2 linked regions of the Homo sapiens genome follow. The protein of the gene in region 2 interacts with the protein of the main gene of each other region in a pairwise test. Each region holds a gene or a part of one and is shown on either strand. Other genes may lie near its edges. The genes, in order: NME7 and CFAP141.

Region 1 (4,031 bases), about 15 Mb from region 2:
TTAATGCTCTTCTAGTTCTGTTAAATGTTTTATATCAAAGGAAAGCATTTCTATCACTGGTGACTTAGGGTGGATTTATGCTGCTGCTCTAGTAGTAGAGAAAACCTTTGACATCTTGCCTACTATCAAACAGTGATTCAGTGTGTCTCCTTTGTGAACTGGTAACCTGATCATGATCAACGTAAGTTTTCTCCAATTAAAACACTTCTCATCCTGTTTCTTGTTCCCAAGACTTAAATTACTGAGGCTCCTAAATGTTTGAATTATTGAATTCATGTAAGAATACCAGTTTATGGCTAGTAGATATTAAAAAGAAGATATAATTTGAGATATTTCCTTTTGATTCAGACGTAACACTGTGCTTTCAAGCTTAACATCCTATTATTTTCCTATATATAGCTAGTGTTTATGAAAGTTTCTCTACTCCTTATTTTTAAATCCATATAAATAAAGCATTTATTGGATTTATACTGAGGTTGAATTAAAGAAGTGTAAGTTTATTTTTAGCATCGTGAGAAGTGTCTCACTTAAGGTAGTTTTTAATCTGGTTGTGTTTGCAATGAAACAATATTAGACAGTTTTATAATTGATTTCTTTCTTTTTCCTACCATTTCATCAGCAAGTCCCTTCAGCTCTTTCAAAATAAACCCTGAATCTGATCATTGTGGTCTGAATCACTATTATATTTTGCCAGAACTGCTACAATAGCCTCCAAATTCTTTTTTCCTCTTTTCTTACACTCAATTAATGAAAATTTTACCTTACCCAAGTAAAATCAGCTATGCCCAGTGATCTTTTAAAGACAAATCAGATTAACATTCACCTGCTGAAAACCCTTCAGTGAATTTCTGTCTCTTCTAGAATAAAATCTAAAGTCTTTATTGTGGCCTCCAATGCTCTATCTAGTCTGGCCCATATCTATCTCTAACTGTATCTTTGATCAATCTCTATCTTAATCATTGTGTTCCAGGCACACTAACCATCTCGCTATTCCTTGAATAGCATATTTCTGTCTGGAATGGTCAACTAACAGCAAAGAGGACAGTGTGGTTGGATAGGAATGAGAGAGGGAGGAAGAGGGTGATGAGGTTACAGAGGTAATTAGGGGAAAGATTATATGGTCTTATAGGCCGTAGTAGTACTTTTAGATTTTTCTCTGAAAAAATAGAGAGCCATTTTAGGGTTTTGAACAAAGGACTGATATCTTCCACTTGCCATTTAAAAGGATCATTCTGGCTGTTGCATTAAGAATGACTATAGAGGCTGGGAGTGGTGGCTCACACCTGTAATCCCAGCACTTTGGGAGGCCAAGGCGGGCAGATCATTTGAGGCCAGGAGTTCGAGACCAGCCTGGCCAATATGGTAAAACCCTGTTTCTACTAAAAATACAAAAATTAGCTGGGTGTGGTGGCGCCCACCTGTAATCCCAGCTACTCCAGAGGCTAAGGTGGGAGAATTGCTTGAACCAGGGAGGTGGAGGTTGCAGTGAACTGAGATCATGCCACTGTGCTCTAGCCTGGGTGACAGAGTGAGACTCCATCTCGGGGGAAAAAAAAAAGAATGACTATAGAGGGCAAAAACAGCAACAGGGAGCCTAATCAGGAGTCTGTTGGAATAACCCAGTGAGATGATGGCTTGGACCTGGGTGGTAATAATGAAAGAAGTATACAAATATATTTTAAAATATATATTAACGGTTGAAGGTCAAATAAACAAGATTTTCTGCTAGATTGAATGTAGAGTATGAGAAAAAGATACCAAGTATTACTCCAAAGTTCTTAGCCTGATTATCAGAAGGATAGAATTTACGTAAACTGAAATGAGGAAAACTGTGGCTAGAGTCAGAATGAATGGACAATCAGGAGTTAACGTTTTGGACATTTATAAACTTAACCTGTTTGTTAGTTTTCCAATTAGACTGATGAAAAAAATTAGTGTGACAGCTTAGAGTTATCAGCACATAAATGGTATTTAAAGCCGGGAGACTGGTTGAGATTACCAAGGAGAAGGTATAGATAGAGAAGTAAAGAGGACCAAAGATGAAGCTACATCTTGATAAAAGGTAAGGAGAAGAAGGCAGCAAAGGAGGTTGAAGAGGAGCCACCAGAGAGGTAAGAGGAAAAACTGAGAGATAATTATGTCCTGGAGGCCAAGTGAATCAAATATTCTAAAATGAGAGAATGACCAGTGGTGTCAAATAAGGCAAGTAAGAAGAGGACTAAGAATGGATTGTTAAATTTTGCAATGTGGATATCATTGGTGAACTTTGTAAGGTGAATGTTGATGGGGAGGTGGAGGCAAAACCCTGTGTGGAGTAGACTTAAAAGAAAATTGTGGGACGGGAATTGTAGTTAGTGAATATAGACAACTTTTTTTTTGAGGAGTTTTTTTGAGGAGTTTTCCTGCAAAGAGATGAGGTGGTAGCTGTCAAGAAAAGTAGTATCAATTTTTTTTAAGAGGAGAGGTATTGGGTAAAAAATTGATGATGTAGGAAAAAGAGGAAGACTTGTTGGAGCAATTTCATTAATTAGGCAAAAGGAAATGGAAATTAGAACCCAGGTGGAGAGATTAGGCAGGTGTGCCTCTCAGGTACTCGTCTATAGCAACAGATGGGAAGGGAGAATATGTGAACACAGATGCTGATTCTTAAGTAGGAAGCAAGATCAAAACAGCTGAAAGTGAGGATGAGGTATAAGGTATTGGTTGGTCTGAAGGGAGAGAAGAATATGTGAAATGGTGATCTGGAAAAGGAATAGATCAGGGAAATGTGGTGTGTGATTGCTATACTGAATTAATGGCCCATGTAGTGTTCATGGCCATGAACTATGAGTGTGGTTCTCCAGCCTGTTCAACTGCATGGCTGAAGGTAAGGAGTAGGTGGAGAGCTGGCTTTTAACCATGGCTGTGGTTTTGTGAAACAAATGTGACGGAAGTGTTAAGGAAGTTAAAGATACATGCAAGAGAGCAATTATAGTCTTTGACCATATCTTAGTAGTAGACATTTATTGTAAATGTGGTATTGTTTTGTATAGTTAAATTTCCAATCATATTTTAAAGCATTATAAAAATAATAAACATATCTAATTAATGAAGGAAATAATTGAGGCTGAACTGAAAGTCACTACCATGTTTACTGATATTTCCTGCCTATTTCACCCTATTACCACCTTATGCCATCCATTTCTTTTTTATTTCTACTAGATTATTTAATAAATTTGAGCATAAATATACTTGTTAGATTTTAGCATATCTTGTAGTGGAGCAACTTTTGTTAAGTTAGCTACTGTCTCAGTCCATTTTGTGTTGCTGTGAAGGAATACCTGAGGCTGGGTCATTTATAAAGGAAAAAGGTTTATTTGGCTCATAGTCCTGATGGCTGGGACATCAAGATTGGGCATCTGCATCTCGTGAGGGTCTCAGGCAGCTTCCACTGCCTGAGGTGGAAGGTAAAAGGGAGCCTGCGTGTGCACAGATCACATGGTAAGAGAAGAAGCAAGCCACCGGGAGAGGTGTCAGGCTGTTTTTAACAACCAGCTTTCAGAGGAACTAATAGAGGGAAAATTCGCTCACCTTGGAGGGAGGGCATTAATCTATTCATGGGATTTACCCCTACTATCCAAACCTCCCATTAGGCCCTATCTCCAACATTGGGGATCAAATTTCAACGTGAGATTTGGAAGGAACAAACATCCAATCCAGAGCAGCTACCATTGCCATTTCACCTAAAGAAATGTCTTAAACATATTCGTTTATATTTTGTGCATTTAATTTTTTTAACCTCTTTCTGCCATTAGTTCCTGAAATATCCTATTATTTGTATGAACCCTTTAGGATATATATTTTTTTACCCTTGTCTGGGGAAGAGTGAGTGTTGTTGACATTATGTTAGGTGGCTCTAGGAATTAAGGAAAAATATTGTAGCTGGAAAATGAGCTTATGTGAAGAAGCAAAGACCACAGGTCTTAAAAAATTGAAAAACATCACAGCCCCAAACTTATGCAGCCCCAAACAGCCTCTTCTTTACCTTGAAT
Region 2 (2,375 bases):
TAAAGTGAACCCTTGTAAGTAAAGTTGTCTATGGCCTTCATATGATGCACATGGTCAATCAGTACTTTTCAGTATTTTTCAGAATTTTGAGTGCCTTTATTTTGACTGCTCTTTCCAGCCCCCTACAAATCCCACCACTCCTTATTTCCTTACAACTGTAACATTACCTGCCTGACCCCTGGAGACATTTAAGTTTGGAATCCTCTCTCTTGGCATAGGTGGGAATTCAGGCCCAGTGGAAAGAGACTTGTCCAAAGTTTCACAATAACTAGCTGACTCAAAACCCAAAATGCAGGCCTCCTCACTCAAGCACTACGGTGTCTGTAGATTAATAGCCACATTCAGAACAATTTGTCCAAATATAAATAAAAGATAAGTGAAAGTGATATCTGAGAGATGGCAAGTGAAATCCAGGAGGTTAAGATTACAGTAGCTGAAAAATAAGCACTTTTGAAACAAATCAAGATTTAGACATGAAAGAATGAGCCCAGTGGTCTAAGTTTGAGCCTTTAGGAAGTAAATTTATTTGTTATACCAAATCAGGATTCTCAACTCTCATTGTCCACCCCTCCCCACCCCTGCCCCCTTACATCAACATAGTAAATCCCACTATGACCACAAGGCGTCACTCTTGTTGTTACTGTTGTTTCATAGATTGTTTCCCAAATAGCGGCAAAGGATTAACGAGAGAGTGGAGAAGTGAGAGTGGAAGTGCTGTCTTAAGTCCCTGACAGATAGCAAGATCCAGGTATGTTTTGGGAAGGAGGTTCAAGGTGGTAGAGGTTCTAGAAGGCTAGGTTAGCAGGCATGTTGAGAATGGAAGAGCAGTGTTTTGGATGCCATCAGAATCTCTCTACATAAAAAGCTTTGCCCATCTGATTTAGTTCCTGCTGGTACTGCTGATGCTCCTTTTCAAACAGCTGGTGCAGGGCAGCTTGACGGACCTGGTGGAGAGGGCAGAATAGAGTGTGTTGTTTGCCTCTGTTTACCACCCTTTCTTATTCTTTCTTCCTAGTTGTTTTCCCATTATTTGTGTTCTCTTGGAGCTGGACTTAGCTGTGACATAAAGCTGGGTGGTAGCAGAGAGGCTGAACCAGCAGAGGGAAGCCTATCCAATTTTTTTCTCCACAGGCAAAGCCCTATGTTCAGCAAATATTTGCTGAGAACAGACCATGAAACAGGAACTCTACTAAGTAACTGGGATACAAAGATGGTTACATGGCACCAAGTGGGGACCCCGGGAGAGAGAGAGGTACCGAGAGGCAAGTGATACGCACTAAGAGGCAGTTTTTTTTGTTTTTTGTTTTTTTGAGACCAAGTCTTACGTTGTAGCCCAGGCTGGAGTGCAGTGGCACAATTTCAGCTCACTGCAACCTCTGCCCTCGTTTCAAGTGATTCTCGTGCCTCGGCCTCCCAAGTAGCTGGGATTATAGGCAAGTGCCACCATGCCCGGCCAATTTTTGTGTTTTTAGTAGAGAGGTGGTTTTGGCATGTTGGTCAAGCTGGTCTTGAACTCCTGGGCTCAAGCGATCTGCCCGTCTTGGCCCCCCAAAGTGCTGGGATTACAGGCCTGAGCCACCACACCCGATCTAAGAGGCAGTTTTGAGTCTCACCAAGATGAAAGGAGCAGGAACTAGAGTATACTTTGGGACTTTAACATGTGCCTGCCGCCTGTAAGGTGGATGCAAAGAATCACTTAATGAAAAAGAGTTTTGGCAATGGAGTTAGAGTTGTGTTGCTCTGGTGTAATGCTGAAAACCTAGAGGCAAACAAGATAAATGTGCAATGACACACACTAAGAGCTTGGAAAACTCAATGGGCAAAGGCACACAGCAGTAGTGAATGAGACTTCAGGTTGCCCTGCTAGAACTCACCATTAGTAGTTGCTTTTTGGCCAGTGCCAATTCCTGTACCATGGTGTCCTGCATCCTTAGGGTGGCATACGGGTTTCTTCTCTGGCCCAATGCCATTTGCCACAGACAGTGAGTATGTGAATTTCGCCACCTGCTCCAGGTACAGAGGTGGGGGTTGAATGGGTGGGTTAGAGTTAGGAGTAGAGACAAAAAACCCATAGAGTGAGGCTGTTTCTTTTTTCTTTTTCTTTTCTTTTTTTTTGAGACAGAGTTTCACTCTTGTTGCCCAGGCTGGTGTACAGTGGTGCAATCTTGGCTCACTGCAACCTCTGCCTCCCAGGTTCAAGTGATTCTCCTGCCTTAGCTTCCCAAGTAGCTGGGATTACAGGTGCCTGGCACCATGCCCAGCTAATTTTTTGTATTTTTAGTAGAGATAGGGTTTCACCATATTGGTCAGGCTGGTCTCGAACTCCTGACCTCAGGTGATCCACCTGCCTCGGCTTCCCAGAGTGCTGGGATTAT

The links.
Region 1: the proteins of CFAP141 (region 2) and NME7 interact in binary tests that used the Homo sapiens proteins (3 or more experiments, as listed by UniProt).

Annotation. Positions count from the first base shown.
Region 1 is NC_000001.11:169,294,504-169,298,534, reverse strand, and holds part of NME7 (nucleoside diphosphate kinase homolog 7), read left to right. Parts: intron 1-4,031. UniProt on the Homo sapiens protein: Possesses an intrinsic kinase activity. Displays 3'-5' exonuclease activity with a preference for single-stranded DNA. Does not seem to have nucleoside diphosphate kinase activity.
Region 2 is NC_000001.11:154,198,585-154,200,959, forward strand, and holds the end of CFAP141 (cilia- and flagella-associated protein 141), read right to left. Parts: intron 2,005-2,375; coding exon 1,875-2,004; intron 945-1,874; coding exon 843-944; 3' UTR 501-842; downstream 1-500. UniProt on the Homo sapiens protein: Microtubule inner protein (MIP) part of the dynein-decorated doublet microtubules (DMTs) in cilia axoneme, which is required for motile cilia beating.